Linked DNA regions of Homo sapiens. The protein of the gene in region 2 purifies or fractionates together with the protein of the main gene of each other region. This does not show direct contact. Each region holds a gene or a part of one and is shown on either strand. Other genes may lie near its edges.

Region 1 (8,168 bases), on a different chromosome or scaffold from region 2:
CAGCTACTCAGGAGTCTGAGGTGGGAGGATCACTGGAGCCAGGGAAGTCAAGGCTGCAGCGAGCCGTGATTGAGCTTCTCCAGCCTGGATGACAGAGTGATACCTGGTCTCAAAAAAAAAAAAAAAAGTCAAAATAAAAGGGAAATTTAGTATAATGATATGTTTTTATTTAAACTAATATATCCAAAATGTTATTTTTACATGTAATCAATATTTTTAAATTATTTTAATTAAAATTAAATGTGTTACATTTTTCTCTTCATGCCAAGTCTTCAAAACTGGTATGTACTTAGAGCACATCTGAATTTGGACCAGCCGCATTTTTAAGTGCTCAGTAGCCACATATAGCCAGTGGCTACCATATTAGACCACATGCCTCTAGAGGCTAGACCCTCACACAGAAGAACAGGATGTAACCGGTTATGCTATCATTAGTTATGGAAGTATAACTATTTATCTAATAAACAATTGTGCCTTCATTTCATACTTCTAGGGAAGTTATGTGAGTTGTATTTAATGAGCCCTAATGTCTAGGTACAAACAGGTTTTCCCAGAAGCCTAAGAAACAGATTCACTGCAACTGTCCCTACCCAAGTCACCTTGTGGGGCAGCTCATTCCAGCAGCATTGCCCACTGTCCTCTGGCAGACACAGTGAAGGTCAGCACACTGAGGCCTGAACTTTCAAGCTCAGGAGCAGCTCTGCCTCCCCCTCCACCTCCAGAGACACAAGCTCTAGGAGCACCTCACCTTTCTTACCTGTCCAGCATCCCTCCCCTGTCCTGGTGTGGTTGTAATTCACATATGATTCACCAACATGCTCACATCCAGTCATTCTACCACACTTAAATTCTCCTTTAAGAATATAACCAGCAGTCATCCTTGTAGTTTTTCTTCTCTGTATGTATTAGATTCCATTGAATCACTTGTTAAGGCCAGGCTACTCTAAAGCCTTTTTCCCAAATAGAACTTTTCCCCTCTGAATGTTTGTATATAATTGAACACAATCAGGACCTTTTAAAGTAAGATATCAGTGGTTTCATCATATAGGAATATAGTGAAAGTCTATAAAATCGTCAGTGGTGTGCCAAGATGTGATCACTAAATCCTGAAATATGAATAGCTAACATTCATGGGCCACACATTGTTCTAAAACTTTTACACGTATTAACTGACTCCTCACCACATTCTCTTATCTCCGTTTTATTTATTTATTTGTGAGACAAGGTCGTGCTTTGCCATCAAGGGTGGAGTGCAGTGGCATGATCAGAGCTCACTGCAGCCTCAAACTCCCGGGCTCAAGCCATCCTCCCACCTCAGCCTTCCATGTAGCTAGGACTACAGGCACATGCCCAGCTAATTTTTTTATTTTTAAAATTTTTGTAGAGACAGGGTCTCACTATATTGCCCAGGCTGGTCTCAAACTCCTGGCCTCAAGCGATCCTCATGCCTCAGCCTCTCAAAAAGTGCTGGAATTATAGGAGTGAGCCACCACACCTGGCTTTTCTCCATTTTATAGATAAGGAAGCTAAGGCCCAGAGAAGTTAAACTGTTTGCTCTTGGTCACACAGCAGGGAGTGGCCAGGCCAGAAATTAAACCCAGGCTATTTAACTCCAGAACTCATACTCTTTCTTCTTATTCTTTGTACTTGCCTCACATGTTGGACACATTTTTGTATTCTAAGAATAATATATATATTTTTTAGTAAATAGCACTTGAGAACCTTCCCAAACTTGCCCTGTTCCTCACACTGCCGTGGCATTGATTTTCTGGACGCCTAGTTTGCCCAGGCACTTAGTCATGTAACCACTAGCCGTGGCTTCTGTTTTTCCCCATATGCCTGCCCAGCTCCCTGGTTGTACTCTGAGCTCTCTGTTAGCAGGGACTGTGCATCAGTCATACCTCTTCTGTTTATCCTTCTCCTCAACCCCCCACCATGTCTGGCCCTGTTAAACAATCAAGTAAGCAGTGCACTTATAGACTTTGTCACCCAGAGGTACTTAAATGCAACAGCTACAGGTAGGCTAAAGAAAGATTCTGTTGACCTCATGCTGGGGAAATCGGTAATAAGAAATTGAGGGAGTTGTAGGAGTGTTTGCAGTGTGTGTGGTTTTTTGAGTCTGGCCTCATGCGGACTAAAAAGATCACACCCCTCCAAACATTGAGGCAGCCCTGCAGTCCTATAATGCTTCCACTGATACGTCGCTCCCAGTCAGGCAGGCAGGCCAAGTTACTTAGGGATATGGCCCAGGATGGAATCCATAGGTTTCTGTGAGAACCCCTAGAGAATGCCACAGCCCTTTGTACCCTTATAACAATGCAGTCCTTTCCTTGCAAATGCGAAGTGACTGGTTGTAGTTTTAGCAGCTTTCTCTGTGATTTGCTTTTCTTCTATTTAGGGAATTGTGCTCTTCTGTTTTAAACTTCTTTCTAACCTGCAGAAAAGAACATGGTTCTCTTTTCATGTGCCCCACTCAGATCAGAGAGGTTAGCTCAGTTGGTTAGCCTCACCTAGACAAGTGGTGAACATAGGTACTGATATTTTCAGCATTTCAGCTTCATAAAACATCCTTGTCCCAAAAATGGTACTCTTGAAAGTGAAAGTATATAGTGTGAATTCTGAGAGCCTAAATACCACTAACACCTCTGCTCATTGCTATTGGAGCACATTAGCTAGAAGAAACCTTTTTTTTCCCCTCTGTAAGTTGTTCTCATACCTTTTTTTCTGCATGACCTCTGAGTGATTTTTAAAAATAACTTTATTGAAGTCTAATTCACATCTCATACACTTTATTCATTTAAAGCATACCATTCCCTGGCATTTAGTATGTTCACAGAGTTGTGCAACCATCACCTGCTGAGACCAGCTTGGTCGGGGAGACCCTAACCCAGCGGCACTAGAGGAATTAAAGACACACACACAGAAATATAGAGGTGTGGAGTAGGAAATCAGGGGTCTCACAGCCTTCAGAGCTGAGAGCCTCGAACAGAGATTTACCCACGTATTTACTGACAGCAAGCCAGTGATAAGCATTGTTTCTATAGATTATAGATTAACTAAAAGTATTCCTTATGGGGAAACAAAGGGATGGGCCGAAATAAAGGGATGGGCTCTGGCTAGTTATCTGCAGCAGGAGCAAGTCCTTAAGGCACAGATTGCTCATGCTATTGTTTGTGGTTTAAGAACGCCTTTAAGCAGTTTTCCACCCTGGGTGGGCCAGGTGTTCCTTGCCCTCATTCCAGTAGACCTACAACCTTCTGGCCGTGGGCATCACGGCCATCACGAACATGTCACAATGCTGCAGAGATTTTGTTTATGGCCAGTTTTGGGGCCAGTTTATGGCCAGATTTTGGGGGCCTATTCCCAAAAATCACCACAATCTAATTCCATAATATTTTATCACCCTGAAAAGAAACCTAATACCCATTAGCAGTCACTCCCTTTTCCCCTCTCCCCAGAACCCCTGGCAACAACTAATCTACTTTCTATCTCTTTGGATTTGCCTGTTGTGGACATCTCACATAAATGGAATCACATCATATGTGGTCTTTTGCTACTGGCTTTTTTCACTTTGCGTAATATAATCAGAGTTCATCCACGTTGTAGCATGGATCAGTACTTCATGCATTTTATGGCCAAATAATATTCCATTATATGGATATACCACATTTGAGTTGTTTCTACTTTTTGGCTATTATAAATAGTGCTGCTGTGAACATTTATGTACAAGTTTTTGTATAGACATATGTTTTCATTTCTCTTGGGCATATTCCTGGGAGTAGACTTCCCTGGGTCATGTGGTAACTCCATGCTTAACCTTTTGAAGAATTGCCAAATTATTTTCCAGAGTGCCTGTGCTATTTTACCTTCCCAGGAGTAGTGTTGTGTGAGGTCTCCAGTTTCTCCACATCCTTGCCAATACTTGTTATCTGTCTTTTTTATTTAGCCATCCCAGTGGCTGTACAGGGGTATCTCACTGTTGTTTTGATTTACAATTCCCTGGTAGTTAGTGATGTTGAACATCTTTTCATGTGCTTATTAACCATTTGTGTATCTTCTTTGGAGAAATGTATGTTTAGATCCTTCGTCTACTTTTTAATTGGATGTTTCATCTTTTATGAGAGTTGTGAGTTCTTTATATGCTCTAGATACAAGTCCCTTTTCAGACAAGTGATCTCCAGGTGTTTCCTTCTGTTCCATGGGTTGTCTTTTCACTTTCTTGATAGTGTCTTTTGAATCACAAAAGTTTTAAACTTTGAAGAAGCACAACTTACCTGTTTTTTTCTTTTGACTCTTGTGCTTTTAGTGTGATAACCTCAGAAATCATTGCCTAACCTGAAATCTCAAAGCTTTACTCCTGTGTTTTCTTCTAAGAATTTTATAGTTTTAGTTATAAAACTAGCATTTAGGTCTGTGGCTCATTTCATTATTTTTTATATATGGTGTGGGATAGGGACCATTATTTTATCTAATAGTATTTATCTTTTTTTGATTATGGAAGCAATACATGCTTATTGTAGAAAACCTAGATAAAGCAGAAAAACATAAAAAAGAAAAAAATTTCTCATAATTCTACAACCAGAGATACATTGTTAACTTTATCTGTCCTCAATCTTTTAAAAATGTATCTATATTTGTGTTTATATTTCGAAACATTATACAATATATATACTTATATATAGTATACATACTATAGATACACTACATGTGTATATATTGTGTATCTATAGTGTATATATAGTTTTAAATAAACTGCTTAACTGAATTATGAGTTATTGGTGAGTTACCACAGAGTGAACACACCTGGGTAAGCACCACCCAATAGAGAAATCGATTATACCAGCACTCCAAAACCCCCTTTTTTCCCTCCCTCCCCATCACAAACTCCTTCCTCTTCCATGTATATAGTTTTTCATCTTGCCTTTTTTTAAAGTTCATTGTAGCATGAGCATTCTCTCATGTCAGTAAAATTTCAAAACTGGTTTTTCATAGCTGCACAGTATGGCATCAGCAACTGGACCATCACTGACTTGTCCATTTCCCCAGTGTATGTCCCCAATTTCAGCCTTCAGTTTTCTCAGAAATCCCACGCAGAATAATTTCTAGGAATTTGAGCACGTTGGTGGGGTTGTGCTTTTGTTCTGGATGCACACGGAGACCTGTCTGAATGAGTGGATCTATCTGTGTCTAGCCCTGTGATTGCTGCACAGTTCTCAGACAATCTGATTCGGCCGTTCCTCATCCACATCATGTCTGTGCCTGCTCTGGTGACTCATCTCAGCACAGTGACCCCTGAGGTAAGCAGGCTCTGTGAGTTCCCCGTGAAAACCCAATTGTGTTTTTCTTTTCTTCTTAAACATTAGAAAGTAAAATGGCTTCTCTGCTTATTTCCACACCTCCCTTTAATTGTTCTTTGGGACCAGTGGCCGTGATAGACACATTTGTGTTAGTAGCCCAAAGAAGTGGGTTCTTGTCTGTCCATTTTCTTCTTGGTGTTTGCTAGCACATCCTCCATAACCACGGGTGATCTGCAAGTGATCAAGTTCACTCTCTACAGGAAACTGTTTCTGGCAGTTTCTGATTTAACGGTCTGCTATTCTTTGCAGCGCCTCACTGTTTTAGAATCCCATGACATGCTTCGTAAATTCATCATATTTTTAAGAGACCAAGATCGATGCCGTGATGTATGTGAAAGTTTAGAAGGATGCCATACGCTTTGTCTAATGGGTAAGTATCCGTGGCTGGAACTTGATTGTGTCCTGGCCATCAGGGAAAGCCCGAGTGTTTTGCCTGTCACTATTCTAGAGATTTGGTTGTTTTCTGTAACAATTGGAAGTGCTTACAATAAAAAACACGTATTTAGATAGACAGTTAAAATAGACATGTAAATAAAAATCACATGGAAAATATTCCAGCCTGGCAAACTAGTTAAGTGACTGTTAATGAACATTAGATGTCAGCCTTTAGCTTCCTGGCAGTCAAGGAGAAAGTGAAAATGTGGTGAATTGCCTGGATAATTCCCATCTCAAGAGAGAAGGGAGGGAGTAGTTAGGTGGGGCTTATATCAGAGCAGCGCCTGCTTTACCTATTTTACAGTGTTTTCATTGTAGATGGAAGAAAGGGTTTATGAATAGAAGCATTTGAGGCAGAGGCACAGAATTCTCCTTGCCTAAATTTATTTTAGATAGGAAAAGTTTTTTTTGTTTTTTTTTTTTTGAAGACAGGGTCTCACTTTGTCACCCAGGCTGGACTGCAGTGGCACAGTCATGGCTCACTGCATCCTCTACCTCCTGGGCTTAGGTGATCCTCCCACCTCAGCCTCCTGAGTAGCTGGGACTACAAGCGCACACTACCACGGCCGACTAATTTTTGTATTTTTAGTGGAGACGGGGTTTTTCACCATGTTGCCCAGTCTAGTCTCCTTGGGCTCGAACAATCCACACGCCTCAGCCTGCGAGATTACAGACTTGAGATAAAAACTTCCCTGGGGCCAAATTTCATGAGGAGTTTCTGGTGCGAATGTTCACACGAGTGACGTTGACTAACTGGTGAACGTTGAATAACAGCGACTTCCCACGACACTCAGATACTCTTCAAAGACCATTTCTTATGTTAACCCTTGATTTTTAAGCATTAATATAATATTAAAATGTAACACTAACTAAATATCACCTACCTCTGTGTGCCTAACATTTTACCTGCCACTTCATCCTCATATGGAGAGTAGGGATCATCATTCCAATCTTACAAATGAAGAAACAAGTTTGAGACATGGGTTGACGGCCACGGCTCACCTTGTCTGTGGCATAGCCAGGATTTGAAGTCAGCTTGGCCCGTTTCTTACCTTTGCACCACACAGCAGCCTCCGGCATTGACAGGTGCCCCTTATGTGGAAATTTCTTGCTGCACATGGGATGTGGCCGCCTGAGCCACAGGCAGGGAGCAGGGCCGGGAGGCACCAAAATGTTTGTCTGGGCCCATCACACTCAGCCTTCTCTCTCTGTAGGCAACCTCCTACACTTGGGCTCCCTCAGCCCCAGAGTGTTAGAGGAGGAGACAGATGGGTTCGTGAGTTTGCTCACCCAGACGCTGTGCTACTGTCGGAAGTATGTGTCTCAGAAGAAGTCCAACCTGACCCACTGGCATCCTGTCCTTGGCTGGTTCTCCCAATCTGTGGATTATGGGTGAGTCCCAGATGCAAATCACTGTCTTTCCTGCCTCTCTCCCACCATCTTCTTCTTCCTTCTTTCTTTCTTCCAGCTTGTGGTGTTTTGTTTCTTATTATAAAAATAATATGTATTCATTATATATTAATAAATTGTGAGTAAGAACAAAAGAGGATAAAAACCAGCCCATTATCCTGTAAACCAAAGATAACTTGAGTGAACATCCTGTCAGTTTTCCTATCTAGAAATACTGATCCTTTTTTACAAAATTGAAATCCTATTATTTTGTATTTTGTTCCTTCCATTCAGCTATGGACCTTATCAATGTTTTTTCTTCTTCACTGTCACTTTTTGACTAGACTGCCATATTTTGGAGATGCTAAAACAAGACAAATGATTCAAAGGGAATAGAAATCACCCAAAATCCTTTTCAAGAGGTGGAATATAAATTTTTAAAAGTGTAATTATGAACTTAAAAACATGAGAAACACTAGACTAGAAGAAGGGAGATCAAGTAAGGTGCAGCTTCATGAATTTGAAATATCTACCTGAGCTGAGATAAAGTGGTTTCTGGAGAGGAACCAGCTCTGCTGCCCCAGCTGTTTTCTTGTTCACATATCTGCTCGAGGCATGGGGTCCCTGGCAGTTACCCTTGCAGCAGAAAACTAAAGGCCTGGGGAGGAAATCCCCAAATTTTTCTTTTGTTGTACCTGAGTGACATCCCTGGGTCCTATCTAGTTAAAAAGACTCATTGCTAGGGAACAGCCTGCCCCAGCGTGACACCTCAGCCTGAGGAGGATGGGGCGGAGGTGCTGAGAGTCAGGAGGCTGTGGGAGGTAAGTGAAGGAGAGCAGCACCTCCGCAGACAGCCTGCTCTCCGCTCCACTTCCTCTTCTTGGAGGGACTTGGACGACTTGCTTTGCCTTGCTTTCCTCATCTGAAACCTGGGGATAATTTTCACCCTCCCTTTGATAGGGCTTTCTAGAAAGATTGAATGAGATA
Region 2 (8,168 bases):
ATGCCTGTAATCCCAGCACTTGGGGAGGTTGAGGCGGGTGGATCGCTTGAGCTCAGGAGTTCGAGACCAACCTGGGCAACATGGTGAAATGCCATCAGTACAAAAAATACAAAAACTTAGCAGGGTGTAGTGGTGCATATCTGTGGTTCCAGCTACTTGGGAGGCTGAGGAGGGAGGTTTGCTTGAGCTCAGGGTGTGGAGGCTGCAGTGAGCCGAGATCATGCCACTGCACTCCAGCCTGGATGAAAGAGTGAGACCCCATCCCCCACCCACCAAAAAAAAGAAAAAAGACTTACTTTGAAATTAGAGAAATTATAATGGTGCAGATCTTCTTAAACTTTTTTGGAAAGGAAACAACTCAAATTTATTTCTTTTACCTGTATCTCAATTATTTTCTCCTTATTGCTTCACAATTGTGCCAGTAAAGTGCAAGGAATATCAAAAAGGACATCCACCTCTCTCTTTATAAAGGCAGAATTTTGATCCTTTTTTTTTCCATAGACTAAAAGAACATATTGCTGATAAGAAGAAACTACCCATACTAATTTTTCCTGAAGGTAAGAATGGGCCTGCCTCCCGAGCTATAGTTGATAACAACAAACCATCAAAAGTGTGTGAGGAATAGAATTGCCATAGAATTGGCAACCTTAGCCCAGATCTCTGCCCTTAGAGGAATGGGATGGCACTCTCTGAGTTATTAATTCCTTGCTTTCTTTTGAGACTTGATAGAAGTCATGTTACCTTTTTAATTCAAAAGTCATTTCTGGGTAGTGAACTGAGAGCAGAATTGTCCGTGACTTTAAGGGTTGCATGTATTGAAATTTCACCTGTTGAGAAGTTGTTCCCATAGGCCCATAGAGTGTTCAGTAGAAAAGTAAAAGCTTGTTGTTAAACCTGCTTAGTCAGAACTATAGGATTACTACCTTGGCAGGGGTTCGTTTGTGATATGGTAGTACGATGCCTGTAATTTTGATATTTTAAATTATTTTATATCAAAATAATTTCTTTTAAAATTTATTTTTAAAATGACTGCCTTTAAAAATATTCACGCTCCTACCCTCACCCCCTTGCAGGAACTTGCATCAACAATACTTCAGTCATGATGTTTAAAAAGGGGAGCTTTGAAATTGGAGGAACCATACATCCAGTTGCAATTAAGGTAAAACAGATACCATAATAAGAATAATAATTATTATAAAGATATTGGATTGGTAATTTTATTTTGGTAGCATTTCAAACTTAAAATTTGCAAGAACGAGGAACACCAGTTTTCGGATGCACCAGTCCTCTGCACTTTGCCTCCCCTGCTTTCTCATGTGCTCGCTCTCTATATGTAGATAGATGTATACTGGGTGACTCTGTGCCAGGTGTTGTATTTGCTCATAGTGTTAAGTGAAACAGATTCTGTTCCTGCTTTCATCAGCCTTCTAGTTAAGTGTGGAGACAGATATTTAATAGTCATGTAAATAACTCTTGTTGGTGTGCTCTTTGGTTCTATTTAGAAAAGCAGTCATCTCTAGTCAGATGTATTAGCTGGCCCAGTTTACTTTTTTTTTGATAAATTCCATCAAGTGAAATAACTTTTTTTTTCTTAGAGTCTGATAAAGCTGTTTGGCCTACCACCTTTAAAACATTGGGCACGGATGAGAAACCACCCTTATTTCATAACTGAGATGTATTTTCTTTTTTCTCAGTATAACCCTCAGTTCGGTGATGCATTTTGGAACAGTAGTAAATACAACATGGTGAGCTACCTGCTTCGAATGATGACCAGCTGGGCCATCGTCTGTGACGTGTGGTACATGCCCCCCATGACCAGAGAGGTATTCCTTAGCTAACACTTTATCTAATCAGGTAGAGGCAAGGAGATCTTCACCTGAAAATCTGGGTGTCTCCCTTCTCCATGTCATGCTTTTCTGCTTTCTCAGCAAATGGGTCATTTTTTTAATGATGTATTTAGCTCACTTTAAATCAGACCATTTTATATTGAGAGATTATTTTCCACGATGGTTTTATAATTGCTGTTGGTTTATTGAACCTACAGATATTATCTTGGGTAAGACTAATAAAGAGCGTAATAAATATATGCACATGGTAAAAAATTAAACAATACAACACTGCATTTTCTTTATAGAACAAATGATATTTGCTATGATTGATTAAGAATAGAAAGCATTTGAGCTGAAATATGAATCTTATATTTTAAAACAAATACAAATGATTATGAGATGGTATTAAAAACTCGATAACTAAGATATTCTTGCAATTTTTTTTTTTTTTAAACCAGGAAGGAGAAGATGCAGTCCAGTTTGCTAACAGGGTTAAGTCTGCTATTGCTATACAAGGAGGCCTGACTGAACTTCCCTGGTAAGAGAACTTTCAGAAGTACTATCACTTTTTTTTTTTTTTTTTTTTTTTTTTTTTTTTTTTTAGAGAATGCCTCACTCTTTTACCCAGGCTGGAGTGCAGTAGCATGATCATAGTTCACTGTAGCCTGATCATAGTTCACTGTAGCCTTGACCGCCTGGGCTCAAGGGATCCTCCCATCTCAGCCTTCTGAGTAGCTGGGACTACAAGTGCTTGCCACTATGCCCAGCTATTTTAAAATTTTTTGTAGAGATGGGGTGTCCTTGTGTTGCTGAGGCTGGTCTCAAACTCCTGGACTTGAACTCCTGCCTAAGCCTTTCAAAGTGCTGGGATTACAGTCATGAGCTACTGTTCCTGGCCTTTTCTTTTTTTTAATTAAAAAAATCACTGGTAATAATGTCATTTATCATTCTAGTCAGTTATAGGTTTAGCTGAAAGTAATAGTGGTTTATATATAACAATGGCTTAAGTAAGATAGAAGTTTATTTCTCACTTAAACATAACCAGTGAAGGCTGGTAACAGCTCAATCTGTGTTGCTTTACTCTCCTCAATTTGTGCTTCTCTTATGGTCTAAGATGGCTGTTCCAACTCTACTCAGTGTGTACAGCAAATGGCTATGAGGAAGGAATTTTAAAAAGGACACACCCATCTCTAAGAGCACAAGCTGAGAGTTGTATATCCCACTTATGCTTGTATCCATTGGCTAGTACTCAAGTCATGTGATAACACCTAGCTGCAAAGGAAGCTGGGGAATGTAGTCTTTGTTCTGGGTGGCTATATGCCTATCTCACATTTAGGGTTCTTTTTCTTATGAAGAAAGCGGGAATGGATTTGTGAGTGGGGTGGGCATTGGGAGGCAAGGGGCTACTTACAGGCTCATTCATATTTAACTCTAGCTATAACTATATTGTAAGAAAACTGAACAACTTGAAAGAAGGGAAATAAGTGAAATATTTTAGTTATGGATCACTATGGCTTTAGTTTTTGTTTGTTTGAGGAAGATTGAATATAGGTGAATGTATTAGTCTGCTTGGGCTGCCAGACAAAATACAGTGGTCCCCTCTGGATAATGGGGGATATGTTCCAAGTGCCCTAGTAAATTCCTAATACCATGGATAGTACAAATCCTATATAGACTATGTTTTTTTCTATATGTACATAGCTATGATAAAGCTTAATTTATAAATTAGTAATAGAGATTAACAACAATAACAACTGATAAAATAGAACAATTATAATAATACACTGACTAATAAAAGTTATGTGAATGTGGTCTCTCTCTTTCTCAAAATATCTTAATATTTTCAGACCATGGTTGACTGTGGGTAACTGAAACCATGGAAAGCAAAACCTTGGATAAGGGGGGAGTTACTGTACCACAGACTGGGTGGCTTAAACAACAGTTTTAGAACTGTTATTTTCCCACAGTTCTAAAGGCTGGAAGTTTGAGATCAGGGTGCAGCATGGTCAGTTTTTGATAAGGGCTCTCCTCTTGTGTTGCAGATAGCTGCATTCTCCTGTGTGCTTACATGATCCCTTCTTTGTGCAGGCATGAAGAGAGAGTGCAAGTTCTCTAGTGTTTCTTTTTATAAGGGCACTAATCCCATGAGTGCTCCACCCTCATGACCTCATCTAACCCTAATTACCTCCCAAAGGATCCATCTCCAAATAGCACCATATTGGTAGTTAGGGCTTTAACATATGAATTTTGGGGGAGACAAAAACATTCAGTCTATCTCAGTGAAGGTTAACTATACCTACATTATAATGGGGGATTGAATTATTATTATTATTATTTGAGATGGAGTCCTCTCTGTCACCCAGGCTGGAGTGCAGTGGTGCAATCTGGGTCACTGCAACTTCCACCTCCTGGGTTTAAGCAATTCTCCTGCCTCAGCCTCCTGAGTAGCTGGGACTGCAGGCATGCACCACCATCCCCAGCTAATTTTTTTTGTATTTTTAGTAGAGATGGAGTTTCACTATGTTGGCCAGGCTGCCCTCCAACTCCTGACCTCAGGTGATCCACCTCAGCCTCCTAGAGTGCTAGGATTACAGACGTGAGCCACCGATCCTGGCCGGGAGATTGGATTCTTATTTACATACAGGATGTTAAATTAGCAGGCTGTCACAAAACAGTCTATACCTCAAGTCCTATACAGTTAATAAACTCCCTGCTGTCTTTTTTGGTGTTTCAAAAACACTTTGCAAGAAAAGTTTATTTCAGACAATTGTAGCAATGTTTCTAGGAGCAGGATTTGGCCAACTGAGTTAGGCTGTCAGCCAGGAAACCAGGGACCCTCCTGAACCAGCAGAGGATGGTTTAAGGTGTCTGCCTCTCGAAGAAGGGCTGGCTAGATATTACACAGTAAGCATTCACTTCACATCATTGATAGGTTCTTGTAGGCTGTGACCTTAAGCAAAATGACTTTATAGTAGGTTCTTGAATAAATAACATCATTTTGTTCAATGTTGTTTCTTTATAATGTTGATGAGAAAAAATATTGAGTTTTTTATGCATCATTTTGTTTAAAGTTGCAGTTTCTAAGAACCTATCAACAATGTTCAGGGAGGACTTACTGTACTCCATTATGCAAGGGTGGGGAATAACACTAAAATATTTATCCATTCACATAGCGTGAATACAACTAATTGCATCCAGGTAAACCAGTTTCTGATATCCATTATGCAAATTAACAAACCACTAATTTCTACAGTGAAAACTCATTTCTAAAATTTGTTATGCAAGGACCTGGTGCAGTGGCTCATGCCTGTAATCCCAGCACTTTGGGAGGCTGAGGCAGGTAGATCACCTGAGTTTAAGAGTTCGAGACCAGCCTGGGCAACATGGCGAAACCCTGTCTCTACAAAAAGAATACAAAAATTAGCTGGGCGCCATGGCGCACACCTGTAGTCCCAGCTACTCGGGAGGCTGAGGCCTGAGAATCCTTGAACCTAGGAGGTCGAGGCTGCAGTTAGCTGAGATCGTGCCACTGCACAGCAGCCTGGGTGACAGAGCGAGACCCTGTCTCAAATAAATAAATAAACAAATAAATAAAATTTGTTATGCTAATTAACAAAGCTTGAGAAATCGATGGGCAATAAAGATAAAGATAGCTGAAGCCATTAGTGGCATCTCTGAAAGGCGGCCTTCTGATTAAATGCTAGCTGACCACCCTGGAGTAAGAGTTCTTGACTAACAAGGTGTATGACTTGAGTTCCATACATCCTGGAGTATGAAACTGACTAGTCCTAAGGCATAGGTTAAGACTAAACATTTGTATTACACTGTCTACATTGGAATATGTTAAACTAAATGACAGAATCATAGCATCACAAAACTATATAAAACGACCTTGGTCCACAGATGTCCTATAACCCATGGTCATACGTGCAACTGGGTTCCTTTTCCTTATTTAAAACTCTTTACTCACTCTTTATCTTACCTGACACTCAGCCCTCCTGCTTCTATCCTGAAGTCAGTGTCTGTAGTCTCAGACACAGGAAGGGAAGAAAGCCTTGAGAGACAAGAACAACCTAGGGGAGTCAGCCAAGTACAGACTCTCCATCAGAGTGGCTGAACTAAATCCATCAAAAATGATCCTCAGAATTGTCCAGTGTCCTTTTTTCAGGCCATATGCAATTGTATAATAAAATTACTTTTAATTACCTAGCCTCTTAAAAAAAAGAAAGTGGCCTCATTGCCTTTCTAGATTTATTTGTCATGTACCTATTGGTTATGAATTAACATATCTAGATTGTTTTTTCATAGATTGAGTGAAAATATAATTTTATGATCTTAAACTGGCTTTTATATATGGCTGCTCCCTCTCTTAAGAACTAAGACCTGCTGCCATTGCAAAGGGGAATTGGATAAAATTTTGAAGTCTCTAAGGGGTGGCAAATCACAGTTTAAGTGCTTAGAGCAGCATGAGGTTTACTGGGTGCTTGGGAAGGAGAATTGTACAAAATGATGTCAGATTGCTCAAGACTTACATTTTTGCCTGTTTTGGGCTTGGATCTTGTGAAAGGAGAAAGGCCTTTCTTATTTCTTTAGTTTCCTTAGTTCTCACTATTCAGAATTCAGGTAAGTGCTGTTAATAGAAGAAGCTCATTTGGATAAAAGAGGCTTATGTGGACAATTCTGTGGACCTAACAACAATTTATAATCTTGTTTCATGAAAACCTCCCACAACTGACCCACTGGATGATTTGTGGATCACAGTCTGTTTTTAAGTTGAGGACTTATTGCTGTGTCTTAGATTTGAGTCTAGAAGCCAGAACATTGCATTTGTCTCAAGCCGGTGTCTCTGTGGAGGTCAAGTTCTGTCCACATGGCATTGAGTTCACTGGCTAACCTACGATCATTCACCATCATCAGAAAGCATTTGGTAAACATGCATGCTTAACTGGGTTAAAATTAAACAGTCAGAGTATAAAGTAAGCAAGTTCTCAGCCCATGCTCTCCTAGCAGTTAAAATCTAAAACTTTAGATTAGGAGCCAGATAGTGACCTATGATAGTCCAAACTACTCCCAGCAACTCCAGTTTGTTGTTTCTTTATGTGTAGTCCAAAGAAGGAAAAGCATGCAGAGTTCTTATACCCAGGCAGGCACCCTGGAGAGAGTTCAAAGATTTACAGGCTCTGAATGAAGGAATGCTGCTTACATAGGCACTTCTGGTTGAATGCAACTTATGATTTTGTTATTTTATTCGGAATCTGTTTTGGAATATAAATGATTATAAATGCTGGAAATATAGTGCTTTGAATGAAAATACAACTTGTTAGACCGGGCACGGTGGCTCACGCCTGTAATCCCAGCACTTTGGGAGGCTGAGGCAGGCAGATCACCTGGGGTTGGGAGTTCGAGACCAGCCTGGCAAACATGGAAAAACCCTGTCTCTATTAAAAATACAAAATTAGCCGGGCCTGTTGGTGCATGCCTGTAATCCCAGCTACTCAGGAGGCTGAGACAGGAGAATCACTTGAACTCGGGAAGTGGAGGTTGCGGTGAGCCAAGATTGTGCCATTGCACTCCAGCCTGGACAACAAGAGCAAAACTCTGTCTCAAAAAAAAAAAAAAAAAAAAAAGAAAATATAACTTGTTAAACATAGATAGGGTTATATTTGAACAATGATTTATCTTTTTTGAATAATCATTTATCTTTAAGAAATTTACCCACACATATACAGTACCCTTACCATTTCTTCTGTGTATATTTTAAATTTTCCTGTGGTTTTCTAGTAAGACATAGGTAGACGAAAAACCAGTATTTTGTTTTCCTTAAGGAATAATATAGAGAAATAATCCTAGTTTTAATAATCCTTGTTTCAATCCAGTTTTTGTTTGTTTGTTTGTTTGTTTTTGAGACGAAGTTTTGCTCTTGTTGCCCAGGCTGGAGTGCAATGGCGTGATCTCGGCTCACTGCAACCTCCACCTCCCGGGTTCAAGCGATTCTCCTGCCTCAGCCTTCCAAGTAGCTGGGATTATAGGCATACACCACCATGCCCAGCTAATTTTGTATTTTTAGTAGAGACAGGGTTTCACTATGTTGGCCAGGCTGGTCTCGAACTCCTGATCTCAGGTGATCCACCCACCTTGGCCTCCCAAAGTGCTGGGATTACAGATGTGAGCCACTGTGCCTGGCCAATCCAAATATTTAATACACCACCCCTTAACTTCTAAAGAAACTGAGTTGGGGATATTGTTACTTATTTTAACCAAACATCAGAGAGATTGTTCCTTCCTCAAAGTAATGTGTATTTGGCAAGTGGTAGGGCAGAAACTGAAACCTGGGTCTTC
Region 3 (3,500 bases), on a different chromosome or scaffold from region 2:
TGTAAATTGGTAAAATTACGTTTAAGTTTCTCAGACAGGAGTACTAATGATTTTGTCTCTTGCAGCCACGTATGGACCAGTACTTTAATCAGATGGAGAAAATTGTGAAAGAAAGAAAAACCTCATCTAGGATTCGGTTCATGCTTCAAGATGTTATAGACCTAAGGCTGGTGAGTGGGAAAAAAAATAATAATAAGCCTGCTGGTCCAGTCTCTTTAAAGGAATTGGGTTGGGGAAGGATGTCCTGTTGTTTACATGTGTAAAGATAGTGCTTTTGCTTCAGGACTCAGAATTTGGATTGGCAAACTTTCCGTGGGAGAGTTCTGAGAAGGGACAAAAGGCCTATTGCCAGTTACGTGCTTCTTCTCCTTATTCTGATTATCAAACCATATTGCAATTTTGTTTGCGCTTTGTTTTTTTTTTTGAGATAGAGTCTCACTCTGTCGCCCAGGCTGGAGTGCAGTGGCTCAATCTCGGCTCACTGCAGCCTCCGCCTCCCAGGTTCAGATGATTCTTCTGCCTCAGCCTCTGGAATAGCTGGGATTACAGGCACATGCCCCCACACCTGGGCAATTTTTGTATTTTTAGTAGAGACAGGATTTCACGCTGTTGGCCAGGCTGGTCTGGAACTCCTGACCTCAAATGATCTGCCCACCTCAGCCTCCCAAAGTGCTGGGATTACAGGCGTGAGCCACCACGCCCAGCCACTTGCAATTTGTAATCAGCCATTCTGAATTCAAACTCCATTCAAATGTAAATTCAATTAAATTTAGTCTTTGTGAGCTAAATAATCAGCAAGTCTCATCTCCACAGTAAATACCTTTAACTCTCTGAGCCTTACATTTTTAATCTCTAAAATGAGGATGTTGCCTACCTTGCAGATTTGTTGAAGAGTCAATGGAATAATTACGTAAGGTGCCCAGCTCAGATATTGGTGTTTTCTTCTCTTTCGTTTTTCCTGTGACCCTCCTATTCTGCTGCTGGGTTTTTTTTGTTTTTTTGTTTTTTTGTTTTTCTCATTTCTCTTACCGGGTGCAGTTTTTGTTACTACTACTTTTCTCTGTTTTAAGTTTAACTCCTACAGGGAGTTACTCTTTTGTAAGTTTCACTCCTACAGGGAATATACTACATCAAGCCCTACACTAGAGAAAGTGAACAAAGCCCTACCTCTTATTTCTCCTCCACCCAGGCCAGATAGCATTGATGATGATTCTTTATCTTGCTAAGACTAGATGTGGTTGTCTTCACCCATGTTATCAACCACTTATATCAGATGTTGGGACTGTTGCTAGAAAGAGAAGGGAGAAGTATAAAGTGACAACTTATTTTGTCCTTAATACAGGGGATAACCAAAGGGCAGAGTGGTATGGACCTTTGTGTAGAATATCAGAACCATGATATTGGAGAAATAAAAGCATGAGTCATCCTTGACTTAGAACCCCTATGGAATGTGATATGATCTGAGTAGTAATCCCACAGATTAAGGCAAGGCCAAGGAATCCTCATCATTTTTATTTTTCTCTCCTCCTTTCAAATGTACAAAATACTGATACAGATAAAATCCATTTAGTCCACAGAGAAATATATGCCATGCTTAAAAATATAATAATAAATTTGGGCCAGTCTTTCACCCTGTTCTTTGTATCCATTGGCTATTGGAATATGTAGTATACAATTGGCCAGTTTTGACTGAGAAGATTTTAATCCTTCAGCTCTAATCCTAAACTGCTCATAGTGTCATCTATAAGATACATGAGAAACTGCCATAATACAGCTTTTGTAGGTATTTTGTACTTTTCCAGTAGTAAAAATTGCTAATTTTTAAATTTTAAAAAATGTTCAGTTTATCTGGCAGATAACCTTATTTTCTGCTTTTATAGTGCAATTGGGTATCTCGAAGAGCAGATCAAGGGCCTAAAACTATCGAACAGATTCACAAAGAGGCTAAAATAGAAGAACAAGAAGAGCAAAGGAAGGTCCAGCAACTCATGACCAAAGAGAAGAGAAGACCAGGTGAGGCCGGAATCCACCAGGGTTTAGAGAACTTGGAAGTTTCAGGAATACATATTAAGAATTATGTATTTAGGTATAAAATGAGATCAGAAAGAACAGCCCAAAGAATAGAGTGGTGATTGTTAGGTGAAGCAGTTTCACCTGAAGAGTAAAGTTACTGAGTAAAAGTAGAGAATGCAGGAACAAAGCATGATTTCTTTCACTACTTAAAAGCCAGTAAGCAATAAGACTTTATTGAGCATCTTCTATATACTCAGAATTGGTGAGACGAGAAAAGGAAGTGGAAAATGTAGTTACTTCCCTCTCAAAGTGTACAGTTTATCTGGTAAGGTAAAACTTTTGACAAGCAAAAGAGGAACATTTGTTAAGCAAATGGAAGATAGTATATCAATTATGAAATGTGTTCTCCATTAACTGTTAAAATTTAGAGAAAAAGAAGAGAGACAGAAAGCTGAAAGAAAACTTTATTTAAGAAAGGGGCACTTTGTAGCAGGCCGGACGCAGTGGCTCATGCCTGTAATCCCAGCACTTCGGGAGGCTGAGGTGGGTGGATCAATTGAGGTCAGGAGTTTGAGACCAGCCTGACCAACATGATGAAACCCCGTCTCTACTAAAAAATTTGCTGGACATAGTGATGTGTGCCTGTAGTCCCAGCTATTCAGGAGGTTGAGGCAGAAGAATCACTTGAACCTGGGAGGTGGAGGTTGCGGTGAGCCGCGATCGCGCCACTGCACTCCAGCCTGGGGAACAGAGTGAGACTACATCTCAAAACAAAACAAAACAAAAATAGAGACATGCAAAAAAAGTGAAAGATGAAGTAGAAGGCATTTTAAACCTGAGACGATAGTCCATTTACTAAGTTTAGGAACGTTGGAAAAGAAAACCTTTTTCAGAGGGAAATGATAATTTTCTGGCTGATAGTAAATACTCAGTAACCATTAGTTATTGTCACAGACACAGTAGAGCTCATAGTGAAGTTGTTAGGAGAGATGAATTCTGCATGGAAGAAAGTTTACTTTTAAGTTTCTTGAGATACCACACTTACCTTCCTCGCTCTAGTACCTAGTGCAGTGCCTTTTGGGTAATAACTTTTATTTATTATTGAACCAGATTGAGAGGGAAAAGGAGAAGATACCAAAGCCTAATTCATGGAGGATATTCACATATGACTAAAGGAAGAAAAGAACTCTTGGAAAAGTGCCAGACAAGTGGAGAGAAAGGACTAAGATACAAGTGTCATAGAGACAAGGAAGAAGCAAGTCTGTTTATGATCAGTAATATCAGATAGCACGGAGAAAATCAAGACGTTATGTTAGGACCAGAAAAGCTTTTGGATAGACAGTTCGGTGATCTTTCAATTTATTAATTCATTCAGCAAGTATTTTTTTTTGAGATGAGTCTCGCTCTGTCGCCCAGGCTGGAGTGCAGTAGCGCGATCTCGGCTCACTGCAACCTCCGCCTCCCGGATTCAAGCAGTTCTCTGCCTC
Region 4 (8,168 bases), on a different chromosome or scaffold from region 2:
GGACCTAAAACCTCTGACAACTATGGGAAATTACAAACAAGTTCTTGTCACAAATTGGGAAAACCACCCAGAAAGCAAGACCGTGTAGTAAGGCTTTGGGAGACATGACCCGATGCCTGGAGACCTTTAAACAATCAGGGGTCTGGGATTGTGAGACTTCTTTCAATCTGAACTTCTAGAGAAAAAACACGGATACTGTGACCACCAGTTTTTTACTTACACGACGATACTTGCTGTCCTAATCTCATATATGTATTGATTTCTACTATGCTGGTGTACTTTTTTATTCGCTATTGAAATTGGATGTGCTCCAAAAATCTCCGTGTGAATTTGTACTAGGAACTGATTTTTTTTTTTTTTTTTTTTGAAACGGAGTCTCCCTCTGTCAACCAGGCTGGAGTGCAGTGGCGTGATCTCGGCACACTGCAACTTCCGCCTCCCAGGTTCAAGCAGTTCTCCTGCCTCAGCCTCCCAGGTAGCTGGGAGTACAGGTGCCTGCCACCACGCTTGGCTAATTTTTGTATTTTTGGTAGAGATGGGGTTTCACTATGTTGGCCCGGCTGGCCTCGAACTCCTGACCTCAAGTGATCCACCCACCTCGGCCTCCCAAAGTGCTGGGATTACAGGTGTGAGCCACCGTGCCCTGCAGAACTGATTTTTTTTTTTATAGTCCAGTCTCTTCCTCATTAGTCTGAACAAAGGAGCAAAAGGACTCGGGATTCTGAAGCGCTGTAAAATACCATCATAACTTTGAATAGTCCTTGATAATGCAATGTATGATACAATTGTATTGATGCATACAATATTTTATCTTTTCAGTAAACCTTTATGATTCTTATTGAGTTAATGAAGGATGTAGCACCTGAGCTCTGTCTCTTCATCATACTTGTCTTTGATAATGACATGACCAGTAACTCACTCCGGCCCATATGCAGATAGTACTGAGGAGTGCTATGGGGAACTACAGAATTTTTCAGGCCTGTTTAAGTGCTGTTCTCTGCTTTGTGACAAGTTCAACTTTCTGGAGTTTTCAAGTTGGAAGGGATGTTTTCTAGCCCCACCCCTTTCTGGACTGGTTTGCTTCTTTCAGCCTCCCCTAAAATATGGCCCTTAAGCCTCTCTGTAAAGACATTTAATGATGGTAACCTCTCCACCTACCAAGGCAGTCCTTTTCACGATTTGAATGACCCAAAGTAGTTAGCTCTTTATAATTTGCAGTACTTGTTTGGCCACTGACTTACTCTGACCCTCGGAGTGGAGACGCAAGCAGTTTGGATTCAACAAGCATTTTATTACGTTTTGTGGCCATAACTTCTGGCCACATTTGTAATTAGTACTACTTTAGGTCTAGGGTGACACCGAATTAAAGTATTTGTGTTAAAGAGTCACATGGAGAAATAAGCAGAATCAAAGAGAAATAAATATAGAGTCACATAATGAGAAAGTGTAAACCATAGTGAAGATGCAAAAAGCCATTTTTGCTTCAGAATGAAGGGAGCAGTAATCCCATTCTGGTTTATATACATTTGACCAAATGGAAATGACCTGGATGGGATATTTTTACCATGTGGCTTGTGGACAAACAACTAAGTGCTCATGGAAAAGCTGTTTTCCCCATTGCCAAAGAGTGAGTCACTTGTGAGGGAGATTCTCTCCACAACCAGTGCAAATGTATGTATTGAGCCAGAATGCTTAGTGAAACAAGTGCTTACTGAATTTTTACAGTGTCTGTTCAGTACTGTGCTAGGTACTCAGAGCAGATGGTGACAAAAAACGCCCCCAACCTGGTTGGGGAGATAAGCCCAAGAGAGTTATGATTAGCATCATGACATAAGAAAGCTGAGAATTGTGTGTCATCCACCTTCAGAAATCAGGCAAGAGAGAGAGTCCTTGTGGGCTGTCCTCATGGAGGACAGGAATTGGGCCTTGATACATGGGTGGAGTAGATTTGGATAGATTAACCTAGGGCATTTTGGGTGACTTCCAGGAGAGATCTCCCCCTAAGCCTGCTACAAAGTCATTCCTTTGCCCTGGGAACCATCAGTTTATCCAAATAGTGTCCATCATCAGAGTTGTTTTTTCTTTTTCTTTTTCTTTATTTTAGAGACAGGGTCTTTGCTCTGTCTCCCAGGCCGGACTGCAGTGGCTTGAGCATAGCTCACTGCAAGCCTTAAACTCCTGGGCTTAAGCCATCCTCCCGCTTCAGCGTCCCAAGTAGCTAGGACTACAGGCGCATACCACCATGCTTACCTGATTTTTATTTTTATCTTTTGTAGAGATGGAGTCTTGTTATTTTGTCGAGGCTGGTCATAAACTCCTGGCCTCAAGTGATTCTTAGGCCACTTCAACCTCCCAAAGCACGGGGATTACAGGTGTGAGCCACTGCGCCAAGCCCAGAGTTGTTTTTTCAAGGAGTAATTTGGTATGATGCAAAAGATTTTGAAGAATAAAAACGGATATCTGGAGTGGGTAGAGAGGTGGAATTTGTCCCATTTTCATCTGCCTTTTCTTCTATGAAGAATTTGGAAAACTATCTATCAGAAGCACTTTAAGAACAATTATAAGACATTTTACTACTTCCTTTGCCAGTACAAAATGTAACATAATTGAGGAATACTAAATTTATATTCAGTGCAAAAGCTGTGCATTGGAATTTGATGATTATATTTAACCATATTTTTTGCAAATTTAAAAAGATTAGAATTTCTACATGACTAGATTAGCTGGTATTTGATATTTAATGAATAACAGTAAGTGTTTGGAAAAGTAATTCTGGATAAGAATTACCTGTGATCCTCAGTTTCATCATCTGTAAAATTAGAATAATAATAGTGCCTACTTTATAGGATTCTTACGACAATTACATGAGATGAATTATGCAAACTACTTAGAATAGTGTCTGGTATAATAAACTTCATGTGAGTGTTATTATTTTGAACCATAGTTAACAATCGTCTTATTGGGAAAATACCATTTGCATGTACTAGTTATAAAAACTATGTGTAGGGCTATATCATTGGGGAGGTGACAGCATTTTATACTTCTTTTTGTAGTGGACAGTTGATTAGGAATTAAGTACAGATGTTTTGCCAATTATAAGGAAATAAAATTTTTAAAGGAGTTTTTAACAGTTTATGAAACTGTTATGATGTTTTAACAGGAATTGTCTAAGAAATGCTTTCTATTGGCATATTTGCTAAATTATCTTTGTTCTACTACCTTCTTTCAGACTTCTGCATTTTCATAAAGCTTATTTGAAAAAAAGGTGTAATCGGGGATAAAGCCACAAATGTCTTAGGAGTTTCTGTAATCATCACCCTTAATTCACTTAATTGTAGCAATAAGCTGGCTGTGAATTACTTAAAACTTTATGAGGCCAGGCGCAGTGGCTCACACCTGTAGTTCCAGCACTTTGGGAGGCCAAGGTGGCAGATCGCTTGAGCCCAGGAGTTCAAGACCAGCCTGGGCAACATAGGGAAACCCCATCTCTACAAAAAAATAAATTTAAAAAAAATTAGCTGGACATGGTGAAGCGTGCCTGCAGTCCCAGCTACTCAGGAGGCTGAGGTGGGAGGATTGCTTAGGCGGGAGGTCAAGGCTGCAGTGAGCCATGTTCGTGCCACTGCACTCTGGCCTGGGAGAAACAGACCCTGTCTCAAAAAAAAACAAAAACAAACAACAACCACAAAAACACCTTGATAAACAATTCATGCCATTCAAGTAGTAATGAATGCAGATTATTTTTAGTCTCTACCTTTTGGTATATGTCATGTGGTACGGGAAGGGTGTTGAACAGGTTTAGGAAGTAAGTTGCACAGGTTGGTAAGGTTTTGTTTGTTTGAAAGAGTGTAGTAATGATAGAGTTCTAACAGAGTACAAGCCTGGCAAAGGCAATTGCTTGAGAACAATATCATGGCTAGAATGTAAGTAGAAATTCAACTTCAGGTTTCTCGTGCCTCCAAATGTAGGACCCTTCACAGCCCTCACCAGCCTGAAGGTTCTGTCACTTCAGAAAACCAGGCTGTCTTCTGCCTCCTATTGAAATGGAAATGCATGGATAACTAACACCTTTAACTGGTTTTGGGTTAAGTGATTTGTAAAGCTCTGTACTTTTTGAGTTCTAGTGCAAAGTTTTATTCTCATTTGTTGCCATAAAGGAGTAAGAAGCAACTATTTGTCAATTAGAGAGGGCATTGTGGGAAAGAGACCCTAAGAACTTTTTTTTTTTTTTTTTGAGACAGGGTCTCACTCTGTTGCCCAGGCTGGAGTGCAGTGGTGCAATCATAGCTCATTGCAGCCTCAAACTCCTGGCCTCAAATGATCCTTCCACCCCAGACTTTCAAAGTACTGGGATTATAGATGTGAGCCACTGTGCCTGGCAACTACCTGATTTTTAATTTTTATTTATTTATTTTTTCAGACAGGGTCTTGCTCTGTCATCCAGGCTGGAGTGCAATGGCATGATCACGGCTCACTGCAGCCTCAAGCTTCTGGGCTCAAGCAATCCTCCCAGCTCAGCCTCCTGAGTAGCTGGGACTACAGGCACATGCCACCACGCCTGGCTAATTTTTTAATTTTTTGTAGAGATAGGGTTTCACCATGTTGCCCAGGCTGGTCTTGAACTCCTGAGTTCAGGTGGTCCGCTCATCCCAGTCCCCCAAAGTGCTGCGATTACAGAGGTGAGCCACTGGCCAGGAACTTTTTTGCGGGGGCAAGGAGGGGATGGTGGTCCAGACCAGAGAGTAGTTGGAGGTTTATTCATTCAGAAGATAATTGACCCCAGCAGCAGCTGCGAAGATATAAGCTTTATTTTTGTAAATTTCTGGATAAACCATTTGAAAGTTGCAGGTATTGGAACTCTTTACCCCTTCATACTTCTGCATGTATCCCTTAAGTATTGGGATGGTTTTTACGTAACAACAATACTATTATCACACCTAAGAAAGTTGATAATACTTCTTAATACTATCTTTTTTTTTTTTTTGAGACAGAGTCTTGCTCTTGTTGCCCAGGCTGGAGTGCAGTGACTCGATCTCAGCTCACTGCAACCTCTGCCTCCTGGGTTCAAGCCATTCTCTTGCCTCAGCTTCCCAAGTAGCTGGGATTACAGGTGCCTGCCACCAGGCCTGGCTAATTTTTTGTATTTTTAGTAGAGATGGGGTTTCGCCACGTTGGCCAGGCTGGTCTCGAACTCCTGACCTCAGGTGATCCACCCACTTCAGCCTCCCAAAGTGCTGGGATTACAGGCGTGAGCCACCGCACCTGGCCCCTTTTTTTCTTTTTCTTTTTTTTTTTTTAATTGAGATGGAGTTTCACTTTTGTCGCCCAGGCTGGAGTGCAGTGGCGCGATCTCAGCTCACTGCAACCTCCGCCTCCTGGCTTCAAATGATTCTCCTGCCTCAGCCTCCCAAGTAGCTGGGATTACAGGCATGTGCCACCACGCCTGGCTAATTGTTTTTATTTTTAGTAGATACGAGGTTTTACCATGTTGGCCAGGCTGGTCTCGAACTCCTAACCTCAGATGATCTGCCTGCCTCAGCCTCCCAAAGGGCTAGGATTATAGACGTGAGCCACCTTAATATTATCTATCATTCACTTCCTATTCAAATTTCTCCAATTATAAGAAGATAGATTTTGTTTGTTTTATATAATGTTTTAAAATCTCTCTTAATCCCTAAGAGACTAGTCCAGGGCTTGAAGTCTTCATGTCAGGGGGAATGTTAAGGTGTAGTCTATTCCGGGAAGCGCAGGCTTCAACTTTCCTTTATCTAGAGCTACCTTTAGCTGTACTTGTAATCTTTACATAGGTTATCAGTCTGTTCTTCTGCATTAAGATTTGGAATAAAGGCAAGGACAAAATAACTTTTTCTTTTCTTTTTTTTTGAGATGGAGTCTCGTTCTGTCACCAGGCTGGAGTGCAGTGGTGCAATCCCGCCTCCCGGGTTCAAGGGATTCTCCCGCCTCAGCCTCCTGAGTAGCTGGGACTATAGGCACGTGCCACCATGCCCGGCTAATTTTTGTATTTTTAGTAGAGATGGGGTTTCCCCATGTTGGCCAGGATGATCTTGATCTCTTGACCTCGTAATCCACCCACCTCCCAAAAGTGCTAGGATTACAGGCATGAGCCACCATGCCTGGCCCTCCAAAATAACTTTTTCTTACTCCCTTTTTGTTTTTATTCTTTCCTCTGCCACTTCTGCTTCGCACTTCTGTGAAATGCCTTCCTCCTCTTTGCACAATGCAGTGATGATAGAAAGATTTCAGCAACGTTAACAGGGTCTTTTTTTGTTTTTTTGGCGTGTGTTTTTTTTTTGAGACAGGGTCTCACTCTGTCACCCAGGTTGGAGTGGAGGGGTGTGATCATAGCTCACTACAACCTTGAACTCCTGGGCTGAAACAGTCCTTCTGCCTCTGCCTCCTAAATAGCTCAGCGTACAGGAATGCACCACGATGCCCAGCTAATGATTGATTGATTGATTATAGAGATGAAGTCTTGCTTTGTTGCCCAGGCTAGTTTTGAACTGGCCTTTCGTCAAGGGATCCTCCCACTTTAGCCTCCCAAAGTGCTAGGATTACAGGCATGAGCCACTGCCCTCAGCCAAACAGGGTCTTTTAAATAATCTTTTAACAATTTAAAATGATTATATACCCATACCAGTGGAGAAAAAATACAGCTTCATTCAAGACATGTTTATAGCAGGGCACGGTGGCTCATGCCTGTAATCCCAGCACTTTAGGGCGGCTGAGGCGGGTGGATCACGAGGTCGGGAGATCGAGATCATCCTGGCTAACACGGTGAAACCTGGTCTCTACTAAAAATACAAAAAAAAAAAAAAATTAGCCAGGCATGGTGGTGGCAGGTACCTGTAGTCGCAGCTACTCAGGAGGCTGAGGCAGGAGAATGGCCTGAACCTGGGAGGCAGAGTTTGCAGTGAGCCAAGATCGCGCCACTGCACTCCATCCTGGGTGACAAAGCAAGCCTCCATCTCAAAAAAAGAAAAAAGACACGTTTATATGCACGGCCTTCTCTGAGAGTAACTGTCAACTCCTGTTATTTCCTTTGGGTTACCAAGAATTGTGCAGGTTTTGGGCACCTATCTGACTAGCTTAGAGCCTTCTGGGGAAAATACTTCACTGGAAACATGATCTGCCTTCATTCACACCAGTTCCAGTACCTTTCTACACATGGATGGTGTAGCTCCTTTATAGGTAGATTGGGATTGTTCTGAGATTGCTTTATATTCTTTGTCACAGTGAATTTAGTACCTAAATTAAAGCCTTCTCTCCTTCTTTTTGTTAACAAAATTACTTGTAACCATATCGTTATGGTTCTAAAATTTGTTCTAAAATTTTGGAGATAAGTTTAGATATGACCATATTGATTAGTATTAAAAGTTGACATTTGGTTGTATGTTTCTCCACTGACTCCCATATAACCCAGTTCGTCCTGGAAGATAGTTTTTTTTTTTTTAATGTTTTGGCTACTTATTTACATTATTTATTTTTAACATATTAGTACATTATTTTTTGTTATCGTTTGTTTTGTTTTGTTTTGTTTTGAGGCGGAGTCTCACTCTGTCGCCCAGGCTGGAGTGCAGTGGTGAGATTTCAGCTCACTGCAACCTCCATCTCCCAGGATCAAGCGATTCTCCTGCCTCAGCCTCCCAAGTAGCTGGGATTATACCACCACACCTGGCTAATTTTTGTATTTTTAGTAGAGACAGGGTTTTACCATGTTGGCCAGGCTGGTCTTGAACTCTTGGCCACAGGTGATCTGCCCGCCCTCAGCCCCCCAAAGTGCTGGTATTGCAGGCTTGAGCCACCAGGCCTTGCCACATTTTGAATTTAAGCAGCCATAAACTGGTCTTAACATACTATAGGAGGTTTCAGTGCCCAGTTATTTTATTTCTTTTTTATTTATTTATTTTTTCGAGACAGAGTCTCCTCTCTGTCACCCAGGCTGGAGTGCAGTGGCGCAATCTCAGCTCACTGCAAGCTCCGCCTCCCAGGTTCAAACCATTCTCCTGCCTCAGCCTCCCGAGTAGCTGGGACTACAGGTGCCTGCCACCACGCCCGTCTAATTTTTTGTATTTGTAGTAGAGACAGGGTTTCACCGTGTTAGCCAGGATGGTCTCAATCTCCTGACCTCGTGATCCGCCCGCCTCGGC

Evidence for each region.
Region 1: the proteins of GPAT3 (region 2) and UBE3B purify together in Homo sapiens (affinity purification with mass spectrometry; one large-scale study listed by BioGRID and IntAct). This does not show direct contact.
Region 3: the proteins of GPAT3 (region 2) and EIF4G3 purify together in Homo sapiens (affinity purification with mass spectrometry; one large-scale study listed by BioGRID and IntAct). This does not show direct contact.
Region 4: the proteins of GPAT3 (region 2) and CHP1 purify together in Homo sapiens (affinity purification with mass spectrometry; one large-scale study listed by BioGRID and IntAct). This does not show direct contact.

What each region holds. Positions count from the first base shown.
Region 1 is NC_000012.12:109,492,627-109,500,794, forward strand, and holds part of UBE3B (ubiquitin-protein ligase E3B), read left to right. Parts: intron 1-5,191; coding exon 5,192-5,297; intron 5,298-5,606; coding exon 5,607-5,727; intron 5,728-7,006; coding exon 7,007-7,184; intron 7,185-8,168. UniProt on the Homo sapiens protein: E3 ubiquitin-protein ligase which accepts ubiquitin from an E2 ubiquitin-conjugating enzyme in the form of a thioester and then directly transfers the ubiquitin to targeted substrates.
Region 2 is NC_000004.12:83,596,357-83,604,524, forward strand, and holds part of GPAT3 (glycerol-3-phosphate acyltransferase 3), read left to right. Parts: intron 1-501; coding exon 502-557; intron 558-1,073; coding exon 1,074-1,159; intron 1,160-1,694; coding exon 1,695-1,823; intron 1,824-2,287; coding exon 2,288-2,367; intron 2,368-8,168. UniProt on the Homo sapiens protein: Converts glycerol-3-phosphate to 1-acyl-sn-glycerol-3-phosphate (lysophosphatidic acid or LPA) by incorporating an acyl moiety at the sn-1 position of the glycerol backbone.
Region 3 is NC_000001.11:20,858,898-20,862,397, reverse strand, and holds part of EIF4G3 (eukaryotic translation initiation factor 4 gamma 3), read left to right. Parts: intron 1-65; coding exon 66-170; intron 171-1,880; coding exon 1,881-2,013; intron 2,014-3,500. UniProt on the Homo sapiens protein: Component of the protein complex eIF4F, which is involved in the recognition of the mRNA cap, ATP-dependent unwinding of 5'-terminal secondary structure and recruitment of mRNA to the ribosome. Functional homolog of EIF4G1.
Region 4 is NC_000015.10:41,231,863-41,240,030, forward strand, and holds part of CHP1 (calcineurin B homologous protein 1), read left to right. Parts: intron 1-8,168. UniProt on the Homo sapiens protein: Calcium-binding protein involved in different processes such as regulation of vesicular trafficking, plasma membrane Na(+)/H(+) exchanger and gene transcription. Involved in the constitutive exocytic membrane traffic.